3 linked regions of the Homo sapiens genome follow. The protein of the gene in region 3 purifies or fractionates together with the protein of the main gene of each other region. This does not show direct contact. Each region holds a gene or a part of one and is shown on either strand. Other genes may lie near its edges. The genes, in order: FBXO21, INTS6 and SLC22A24.

Region 1 (3,656 bases), on a different chromosome or scaffold from region 3:
TTTGTTCTTATTAAGTTGAACAGGAACAAAGTGAGACTTCCATTTTTTTTAAAATGATTTTGAATTCCTACAATATTACACAAACATTCCCATAAATTATGGTTATGAAATACAAATATGACTGGTCGTTTACTTTTATTCCCTACTTCTGATGTTTTACCAGATTGTTGATTTTTTTTTCCATTCCAGTGTATCTCATAGTCATGTTCCCATTCTGTTACTATTCCTTTTTTTAAAAAAAATGTATTTATTTTTAGAGACGGGGTCTTGCTATGTCACCTATGCTAGATTCAAACTCCCGTGCTCAAGTGCCACCACACCTGGCTGGCTTCTGTAACTAGTCTCATGCAGTCTATGGCCACCTCTCCTGGCAACAACTTTCTGAGTAATACTTGCTTTCATGAACATTACCCCCCCTTCCCTCCAAGTCAGCCAAAATACCAGTGCCAGCCCCATTAGAAATCTAGCCTTCACCACTGCATGTGAAACCTGCAATGTGGACAACTGATTTCCCTTTTATATTTAACCTCTACCTGCTTTTCAATGCCCTGCATAATCTGGTCCAGACCTTTGCTCCGTACTCTCCAGGATGTCCCATTTGCTCCAGCCAGGCCATTGTCTAGACTGGTGCCCCACAAATACACCTGGCTTCACTTCCTCATTCATGATATCCCTCCTTCTCATAATCCCTCTTGAAAATCCTACTCCCCCTCCATAATTCAGCTCAAGCCTCACTTCCATTAAATTTCCACTGACTACTTGGAGATTTTACTCACCTCAGAGCTACAGTAGCATTTAATAGTAAGCTGTCTTGCATTTTTTCTGTTTCCTGTGTATACATTTGTTTCTGTAACTAGTCCCTAAGCTTCCCGTGTTGTGGTCCTTGTGTTAGGATCACTGTATACCTCACAATGCTTAGTGTAAATGTTTATCAAGTGTATGAAAACCTAGTATCATCCAAAAGGAAATGAAACATCTGTTTCAGTTGATTAAAATAAATTCTCACTGCTAGAATCCCCTCATTTGTATACTGGAGTTGAGAAGCATCCTATCTTCTGTTTATTTCACAGTTAAGAATAGTATATTTTTTTGTAGCTTATGTATGAAAACAAATACTCCTTTTTCATTTTCTAAATACAAAGTTATAATTTTCAAAGAACTTCCACATCAGTGTCATAAGCATTGAGAAGCCATTGGAAGTTGTTTAGTAGTTGAGTGAATGACAGTTGGCTCTCCAAGTTTCTGATCCTTGGTGACTGACTGGAATAATGCTGATGCCATCGAAGAAGTCTGGGAATCATAGCATTAGGAAGGAACGGACTTCAGAAATGTGCAGCATAAACTGCTTCAGCTTCCAGGTAGGGAAGCTGGGGCCCTCGGAGGCCGAGGAGACAGTCCCTGGCTGGTGGCAACACTGGGACTGGGGTCGAGGTGTCTTGACACCCGTTCAACTGCTTTGAGCTCTGGAGCATTGGTAAGGGAGTCCAGGTTCTGAGCTGGTCTGAGATCTCTTTAATTTAAGGTGACTCGAGAGCTTCCCACATAACGGTGTCCTTACCCAAATGATGCTGTTAGCCCTTCAGTCTCTGCTTCCAAAATTACCTAAGACTGTGAAGAGGAGTGATTCTTAAGAGACTGTCTGCAGTGTGCTCTGCACAGCTTTTCAGCTGTAGGTTCCCCGAGCATAACTGTTTATCTCATTGGAAAGTGGGGTTAGCTCCAGAATCCATTTACTGTTCACCCTTGAGATGTGTAATTTGTTGAAATGGCACATCTGTCATGGAGGGCTTTCAAGTTGTTTTTTTTTGTTGTTTTGTTTTTTTAAAGGAACTGCCTTATACCATTAAGTTTTCAGAGTTGTTGGATTTGGAACCTATAACAGCTAGGGAGAGAGAAGTAGCTTGAAAAGATCTCCTTGATGTCATTTACTTCTCTTTGTAATAGAACATGAAACTGCGCCATATACCACGCAGTTTTTTAGTCCATGACTTCTGAGAGAAGTTTGATTTATGTATTTTTTTTTTTAAAGTTAAAGCTACTTTGTTATGAAAATGTTTGTTGCTCCTTCTCAGTGTGTTAGCAGCAAGGTCCATGGCCAAAACATGAAGCTTGTCCAGTGGGATGGTGTAAAGAGCCATGTCCCAGGATGTCCAGGGTAAAATTGCAAACTAATAAGAAAAGGGTAACGTGAGAATTTATTCGGTAATTCTTGTTCATTTTCAGGTGCTGTATATATTGACCAGTACTGCAATCCTCTCTCCGACATCAGCCTCAAAGACATCCAGGCCCAAATTGACAGCATCGTGGAGCTTGTTTGCAAAACCCTTCGGGGCATAAACAGTCGCCACCCCAGCTTGGCCTTCAAGGCAGGTGTGGCATTGCTTTGGATCCAGCTGTATTTATGAAAGAAAATCTAGAGGAATTGGTTAATTTGAGAGATTTGTTAGTGTGCTGCCATTATGTCATGAAAAAGTGATAAAATGACGTGACCACGTGTTTACCTGGTTGAAGTGTTGAACCTAAAACACTTCAAATACATACTGCCTTCTGCTTCCTAGATTGGCAACACTTGATTAATATTGTTAGGCCATTGCCAATGTCTTCATGTTGTGAGTTGTTTGGGGCACCTGTCACAACCTTTTTTGTGCTTGGGTCCCAGAGTAGATCTCTGTGTTTCAGGTGAATCATCCATGATAATGGAAATAGAACTCCAGAGCCAGGTGCTGGATGCCATGAACTATGTCCTTTACGACCAACTGAAGTTCAAGGGGAATCGAATGGATTACTATAATGCCCTCAACTTATATATGCATCAGGTAAATATAGGTACAGTAATATATGGGTATAGTAATATAGGTATAGTAACTTTTTTTTTCTGTTTTTAGAGACAGGGTCTCGCTCTGTTGCTCAGGCTGGAATGCAGTGGCGCGATCATAGCTTACCGCAACCTCAAACTCCTGGGCTCAGGCGATCTTGCCGCCGCACCCTCCTGAGTAGCTAGGACTACATGCCACCACACCCGGCTAATTTTTTATTTTTTGTAGAAATGAGGTCTTGCTATGTTGCCCAGCCTGGTCTCAAACTCCTGGCCTCAAGTGATCCTCCTGCCTTGGCCTCCCAAAGCGCTGGGATTATAGGTGTGAGCCACTGTGCCCATCCTATATGTATTTTTTTAAGCTTCTCTCTGATGGACCGTACATTCTTGAAGGTCAGTACTATGCCTTCCATCTCTGAGTGCTCGATGAAACTTATTTTTCCTTCTGCTGTAAGGATATTGTTGTGGAGTTTATCTGTTTCCTCATGGAGTATCCTCCATATGCAAACCCTTGAGATAAATTTTTGACTAAAAATAGATATTTCTCTGACTCTGTTTGGTCAGTTTGTATCTTGTGAACACTAAACTGTAAAACTAATCAGGGTCCTCTTTGCACTGGCCTCTAGCCATTTGGGAGAACCTGTGGCCCAGCTGTGTCAAGTTTGCATCTGTTATATTTATTTTTTATTTGCTTTCTGCCTAGTTCCATTTTCATATTTAGTTTGTTGCCCTGTCTGCTACTTTCATTTTATTTTGTTATATCGTACACACTTTTCCTTGGAACAGTCTTAAATACTTTCTGGAAGAAGGAGGGCCTAAATCAGGGCTTGACCAACTTTTC
Region 2 (3,656 bases), on a different chromosome or scaffold from region 3:
TTCAGCTCAGCATATGATAATAATAGTAATGATTAATAATTTGTACCCAATGGTTTTATAAAGTGCTTTATGTGTATTAACTCATTTAATCCCATGACAACCCTGTAAGAGTAGGTATTGTTATTATCCCCATTTTACAAATGAGAAACTAAGCCACAGAGAGCCAGAGAGCTTATTTATAATCTGATCTAGAATCATATAACTAGTGAGTGGTTGAGCAGCTAATTACTCAAAAGTAGAAATCTTGCATTTTCCTTGAGTGTTTTTCACTTACTACCCATGTTTTATCAGAGCTACCTCTAGAATGTGTCTTCTGTCCATTTATTCCAAACCTAGTTTCTCCCAGTGGTACCAAGGAAGACCAGTATCTTATCCTTCTTGTCTTGGGGAGTTATTATGGCCTCTAATCCTTTTTAACTACTTCAAACGGCCTTTCATCCCACTGACAAACATTTTACTGAAACATAAATACGATTGTGTTACTTCCTTATTGAGGAAAAGAAGGGGAAATAATTTTTTGGAGAAAATTTTAAGACAGACTATACATGGAACCATAAGTTTTTAATAAGCTTAATATTGAATGATGTTTTCTTTTTTCCTATAGCCCTTGAAGAAAGCTGTTAGGATGATGGGAGCACCTAACCTAATAGCAGACAGTATGGAATATGGACTTAGTTACAGTGTCATTTCATACCTCAAAAAACTGAGTCAACAGGTAATATCAAGAAATAGAGTGAGCCATTAAGTATTTTGAATGGTTTTGGCTAGGATGGTTAAACAGGTTAAAAGCTAGTTCTTGATGGTTCTAATGGAATTCCATTATATTAATATATTACATTTTAGAGCCATATATTACATAATTCTGTCTCACATCCATGGTGTGCTATGTTTTGAAACATTAATTTGAAAATTATATAATAATTCCTAATTTATGAAAATGGCTTCATGAGTGTGGTCCTAGACTTGCTATATGTGAACATTATTTATCTTTTGAGAAATTTAGATTAGAAAGTCATTTTTCCTTAAAAAAGAAAAAAAAAACTCTTTATGTTTTGAAACCTGCAGATTTTTCTTTCAGAATGGGAGTTTCTTTGAAATGTTTGTAGAAAACACTGAATTTTGTCATTCTGGCCATAAGTCACATTAATAAATACTATAGTAGTCAAGCAGTATATAGTTTAACTGACTGTGAAATTATTAATGTCCTATGAAATACATTATTTCTCCAGTACTTCTGACATTGCTACCTTAACTACAAATCAAAAGGCAGTTTGGGAGGAGTCAAAACATTGCTTCTTGCTTTCCAGGGAAGAACTGCATAATTATTTGCCATATTGATGTGCTAGTAAAAATGTCTTACATAATGATGATTTTAAAAAAATAATTTACCGTCACCCCTGAATTGGGAATACACATTTTTGTTTAGTGTGCATTTATATTTCATGGTTTAGGTATAGTGGGTATTAATAAATAAAATAATAAATTGAAATTGTGTTTGTCCTGCTCCAAAAGTTTAGAGTTGTAATGATTTAAAATCATAAGACATTGTTGTTTAAACTATGTTTAATTTACCCAATACTTGACATAAACTATGCTACTTGAGTTTTTAACTTCTTATATACTTAAAAAATATATATTTAATTTATAGAAGATCATAACCATTAGTATCTGATTTATTAATTTAGATTTTATCAAGATAATTCTGACTTATTTTTACTTTAGGCCAAAATAGAATCTGATCGAGTCATTGGATCTGTAGGCAAAAAAGTAGTACAGGAGACTGGAATAAAAGTCCGGAGCCGATCACATGGTTTATCAATGGCATATAGGAAAGATTTTCAACAACTCCTCCAGGGAATTTCAGAGGATGTCCCTCACAGACTGCTAGACCTTAATATGAAGGAATACACTGGGTTCCAAGTTGCTTTGCTGAATAAGGTAATAATCATGAATTTAGTGCTACTCTAGTTATGTTCTGTTATGTTACTGGATAAATCACATTTTCTGTTAACTCTGACATTCAGTTTATCCAGACTTTAAAGAGTACTTCTGTACTCTTGTAGACTAATGATCATTATACTGTCACTGCTAGAATTAAAACAGTGTACATGGTGTGTGAATGAATGGATAGATTGATGAAGAGTAAACTAACTTGTTTATTTTATAGATGAGAAAACAGAGGTTTAGAAATTGCTTTAAGTTGCAGTAGTGGATGGTAGAATTCACTATAGTTTTGTACTTAAACTGATGACCCTATTAGACCCACAGCATGATCCAAAAATGCTTTGTGAGTACTCATGGTTACAGATATCTTTATCCCAGCAGCCTTTTTGTAGAAATAGGCAAGCTGATTCTAAAATTTATATGGAAATGTAAAGGTCCTGGAATAGCCAAAACAATTTTAGAAGAATAAAGTTGGAAGACTTATATCATCTGATTTTAAAACTTATTGTAAAACTTACTACAGTGATCCATGCAGTGTGGTGCCATCATAAGGATAAACATAGGAGATTAGTGGAACAGAATTGAGTCTAGATGTAGGCCCTCACACACACAGTCAATTCTTAACAAAGATATTAAAATAAGGTAGTGGATAAGAAGACAGTCTTTTAAACAAATGGAACAATTGGATATCCATATGCAAAATAATGAATTTGACCATTACCTCATATTATTTGAAGTGGTCGTGATCTTAAATGTAAGAACAAAAACTATAAACTTCTAGAAGAAAACATAGGAAAAAATCTTTGTGATGTTGAGTTAGCAAAGATTTCTAAAAGCACATAGCAAAAATGTTGATAAATTGAATTTCATTAAAATAAAAAATAAACTTTGCTCTTTAAAAGAAACATTAAAAATGAAGAGGGAAGCTACAGCTTGGGAGAAAAGCACATATCAAATAAAGGACTTGTATCAAAATATATAAAGAATTCATATAACTCAATAATAAAAGGACAAACATGGGCAAAATATTTGAACAGACATTTCACCAAAGAAAATATGCAAATACAAATAAGAACATGAAGTAACACTCAGCCTTATCAGCCATTAGGGAAATGCAAATTAAAACCATAACGAGATACTACTTCATAACTGCTAGAATGAATAAAATTTAAAAGACAAAAAATACAGGGATTGATGAGAATGTGGAGCAACCCTCCTAACATTACTGATAGAAAATAGTTGATATTTTCTTAAGAAGTGTAAACATAAATTTGCTGTACAATCAGTCATTCTACTTGTAGGCTTAGCATGCCAACATGGCAGCATTTTTCATAATAGCCAAAAACTTGTAACAGTCCAAGTGCCCATCAGCTGGTGAATAGATAAAGAAGATGTGGTGTGTCCATATAATAGACTACTACTCTGGAATAAAAAGGAACAAACTACTGATACATGAATAATGTCAATGAATCTCAAAAACATCATGCTAATTGAAAGAAGCCAAGTACAAAAGATTAGACGTTGCAAAATTCCATTTATAAAATGGAGCATAGAAAGAAAGCAAGTCACGTGGTTGCCTGGGGATAGGAATAGTGATTGACTGCAAGTGGGTACAACAAACTTGGGGATGGTGGAAATGGATTATGATGATGGTTTCACAACTATAAATTTACTAACATTCATCAAACTATATACTTAAAATAGGTGATTTT
Region 3 (3,756 bases):
ACTTTCAGCCTTCAGAACTGTGAGAAAATAAACTTCTGTAAAGTCACCTTCTGTTAAGTCTGTGGTATTTTGTTATGCAGCCCTAGTGAACTAAAACATTTCTAACAATTTACAACAAAACCCTGTGATGTATTAGATTTCCTGTTTGGAATAGATCCATGAAAGTCATTTCCTGAACAGAGAATCTCTGCAGGCTGGACAGGAATCTGCTTTTTTTTTTTTTTTTTTTTTTTTTTTTTTTTTTTTTTGAGACAGAGTCTTGCTGTGTCACCCAGGCTGGAGTGCAGTGGCACAATCTCAGCTCACTGCAACCTTCACTCCCAGGTTCAAGTGGCTCTCCTGCCTCAGCCTCCTGAGTAGCTGGGATTATGGGTGTGAGCCACTGCACCCATCCAGGAATCTGCATCTTAAGATGTTTCACGGGTGACCAGTTTGAAATTCAAAAATAAGAACTTCTTGTAGGCAGAATAAATTCTGGAGATTCTGTTTGTTTCTTTGGGTTTCTTTTTAATCAACCTGTCTTTTCCCATTATATCCGTGCATGCTATTTAGCTGCTAGCTTTTGAATATCCTTGTAGGTACACAATTATGCCACACCTTTAACTGTAATTGTGTACTTATTATTCCCTCATTTAAAAATTGACTCTTGCAGTCCCTCATCCACTGCTTCATTATCTCAAGAATCTTCCCACAAGAGTAGGTCAAGCTGGCTGGGCATGGTGGCTCATGCCTGTAATCCCAGCACTTTCAGAGGCTGAGGTGGGCAGATCACATGAGGTCAGGAGTTTGAGGCCAGCCTGGCCAATATGATGAAACCCCTTCTCCATAAAAAATACAAAAATTAGCTGGGCATGTGGGTGAATGCCTGTAATCCCAGCTACTTGGGAGGCTGAGACATGAGAATTGATTGAACCCAGGAGGTCAAGGCTGCAGAGAGCCAAGATCCCACCGCTGCACTCCAGCCTGGTGACAGAGTGATACTTTGTCTCAAAAAAAAAAAGAGTAGGTAAAGTTAATTTGTAGAGGGATGACTCCCCTGCTCCATGGCATCTATCCAGGTATCATTAAACAGTTTCTCCTTAATCTTCCATAGCACACTGTGTATCTTCCTTATAGTTATATGATGACATTACAGTACAATTATTTACAAACCTATCATTTATATGAGACATTGAGCTCAAATTTTATTTTAAACTTATAAATAAATATATGTAAGTTAACATTGCTTTATTTACAGCAATAGCACCAGAAAGCCCAAAATGATATTTGAATGAATCAATAAATCTGGTGAAATATACTACTATAATACATAAAAGCACTATTTCCTTTCTCTTTGTTTCTTATCCTAATTTCCCTATTTTAAAAAATCTTTAAAGCCCTGTCATTGGTATGACTTGAACTGAAGCAGAACTACACTTAGCAAAAGTCAATGTTTAAACTCAACATTCCACTTTCCTTTAACTAAGAATAGTTTTTATTAACTTTTAGTAAAACTCAGTCCTAGTCCAAAAAAAGCCCTGCTCTCTGATCTTTGTACAAGAACATCATAAAGCAATTCACTTTGGATTTTCTAATATCCCATTTCTAAGAAGAATGGCAGACTATTGAACAGGTGTATTTTAGGTCACGTGGGGACTGCATCCACCTGAAAATCCACCGTTGACTTATCAGGAAACTCAGAGATCAGGATCTTTCACAGAGTAGTCTTTTAAGAAGATTCAGTTGTCAACAGCTAGCAGTCTCTTTGCCAAATAATTATATCTGTGACTTCTGAAACTATTTGGCTGCCTAAAGTTAAAGGACTTGGGGAAAGTCCTTCCACTGCTCTTCTGCAGTAGTGTCACACCACTCAGTGCAGGGCCCACCAAGAAGAAAGCAGTGTCAGGATCCACATGGCACTATGGTAACTTTGTGAAAGGGGACATTTTCTCCCTCTGAACTTCTCTTCATAAAGTCATTGTGCTTCCTCTTGGGGATCACCTGTTCAGTCTCAATGGGCTTTGATGTGCTCCTGGATCAAGTGGGTGGCATGGGGAGATTCCAGATTTGTCTGATAGCTTTCTTTTGCATCACCAACATCCTACTGTTCCCTAATATTGTGTTGGAGAACTTCACTGCATTCACCCCTAGTCATCGCTGCTGGGTCCCCCTCCTGGACAATGACACTGTGTCTGACAATGATACCGGGACCCTCAGCAAGGATGACCTCCTGAGAATCTCCATCCCACTGGACTCAAACCTGAGGCCACAGAAGTGTCAGCGCTTTATCCATCCCCAGTGGCAGCTCCTTCACCTGAACGGGACCTTCCCCAACACAAATGAGCCAGACACGGAGCCCTGTGTGGATGGCTGGGTGTACGACAGAAGCTCTTTCCTCTCCACCATCGTGACTGAGGTAAGAGGCCCCATGTAAATCTTCTGTTTATATGATTAAAGTGTTTGGAGTTAACACAAAAAAATTGACTTGCTTTATACCTTTAGTCCTTAGATGGGACCTGCAGTCAGCTCATTCTTCATTCCTTTAGCAGGTGGCAGCACCTGATTATCTATTAATACTCTACGATACAGCCAAGTGTATTAGTATTATATTGGTGTAAAAGTAAATTGTGGTATTAGACCATGAATTTTAAATCATTATAACTAGGCTCAAACACATCTTTATTAATCAAAATAGGAACCATTACAATCAACACATTTTTGGCAATGAGAAATAAGTTTGTTAATTCTGTAACATAAATATCCACGCTTTGGGATTTGACAAATTTTTCTGCATTCTGCTGGTTGTGAAAGTGTTTCTCCTACAAAATGTTGTTGAGATACTTAGTTTTGGTTGTTTTTGTTTTTTGCTTTTTGTTTTTTGAGGGAGGCCAGAGTTTTATTACTACTCAAATTAGTCTCCCTGAGCATTCGGGGAGCAGAGTTTTTAAGGATAACTTGGTGGTTGGGGGGCAGCCAGTGAGCCAAGAGTGCTGACTGATCAGGGCTGAAATCATAGGGAGTCAAAGCTGCCTTCTTGTGCTGAGTCACTTCCTAAGTGGGGGTCACAAGATCAGATGAGCCAGTTTATCGATCTGGGTGGTGACAGCTGATCCATCAAGTGCGGGATCTGCAAAATATCTCAAGCACTGATCTTAGGAGCAGTTTAGGGAGGGTCAGAATCTTGTAGCCTCCAGCTGTGTGACTACTAAATGATAATTTCTAATCCTGTGGCTAACGTTAATCTAGTCCCCAGGCAAGAAGGAGGTCTGCTTTGGGAAAGGCTGTCTTTGTTCAAACTATAAACTACAAACTAAGTTTCTCCCAAAGTTAGTTCAGCCTATGCCCAGGAATGCACAAGGACAGCTTGGAGGTCAGAAGCAAGATGGAGTCGGTTAAGTTAGATCTCTTTCACGGTCTCAGTCATAATTTTGCAAAGGCAGTTTCAATCCCTCCCTTTGGGTTTTATAACACCTTAATCTTAAGATGTAGGCTATGAAGACGGGAAAAGGCCATCTATCACTCCAGCTTCTTCCTGCTGACAGGGGACATAATGGGAATGGGAGTGAACCCCAAGGTGAGAAGAGTGGAACTGCTTTGCTACTGAGTGTATTCATGCAGGCCTGGATGGGCTTCCAAGGCTTGTGTGGCAAAAATATTAGTACTCTCATCTATAGTTTTAGTACAGTATTTAAATGAAGAGCATGCTATAAGGTAAATAATGAGTCCTAGGATGAGGAGTACAATTCCCAATTTTAAAAGCAAAGATTGGAAAGCATT

The links.
Region 1: the proteins of SLC22A24 (region 3) and FBXO21 purify together in Homo sapiens (affinity purification with mass spectrometry; one large-scale study listed by BioGRID and IntAct). This does not show direct contact.
Region 2: the proteins of SLC22A24 (region 3) and INTS6 purify together in Homo sapiens (affinity purification with mass spectrometry; one large-scale study listed by BioGRID and IntAct). This does not show direct contact.

What each region holds. Positions count from the first base shown.
Region 1 is NC_000012.12:117,173,365-117,177,020, reverse strand, and holds part of FBXO21 (F-box only protein 21), read left to right. Parts: intron 1-2,223; coding exon 2,224-2,370; intron 2,371-2,679; coding exon 2,680-2,816; intron 2,817-3,656. UniProt on the Homo sapiens protein: Substrate-recognition component of the SCF (SKP1-CUL1-F-box protein)-type E3 ubiquitin ligase complex.
Region 2 is NC_000013.11:51,376,521-51,380,176, reverse strand, and holds part of INTS6 (integrator complex subunit 6), read left to right. Parts: intron 1-604; coding exon 605-715; intron 716-1,722; coding exon 1,723-1,938; intron 1,939-3,656. UniProt on the Homo sapiens protein: Component of the integrator complex, a multiprotein complex that terminates RNA polymerase II (Pol II) transcription in the promoter-proximal region of genes.
Region 3 is NC_000011.10:63,142,017-63,145,772, reverse strand, and holds the start of SLC22A24 (steroid transmembrane transporter SLC22A24), read left to right. Parts: upstream 1-1,551; 5' UTR 1,552-1,993; coding exon 1,994-2,395; intron 2,396-3,756. UniProt on the Homo sapiens protein: Renal transmembrane organic anion/dicarboxylate exchanger that participates in the reabsorption of conjugated steroids including estradiol-17beta-D-glucuronide (or 17beta-estradiol 17-O-(beta-D-glucuronate)), androstanediol glucuronide (or 5alpha-androstane-3alpha,17beta-diol 3-O-(beta-D-glucuronate)), and estrone 3-sulfate, as well as bile acids taurocholate and glycocholate, driven by an outward gradient of dicarboxylates such as glutarate or succinate.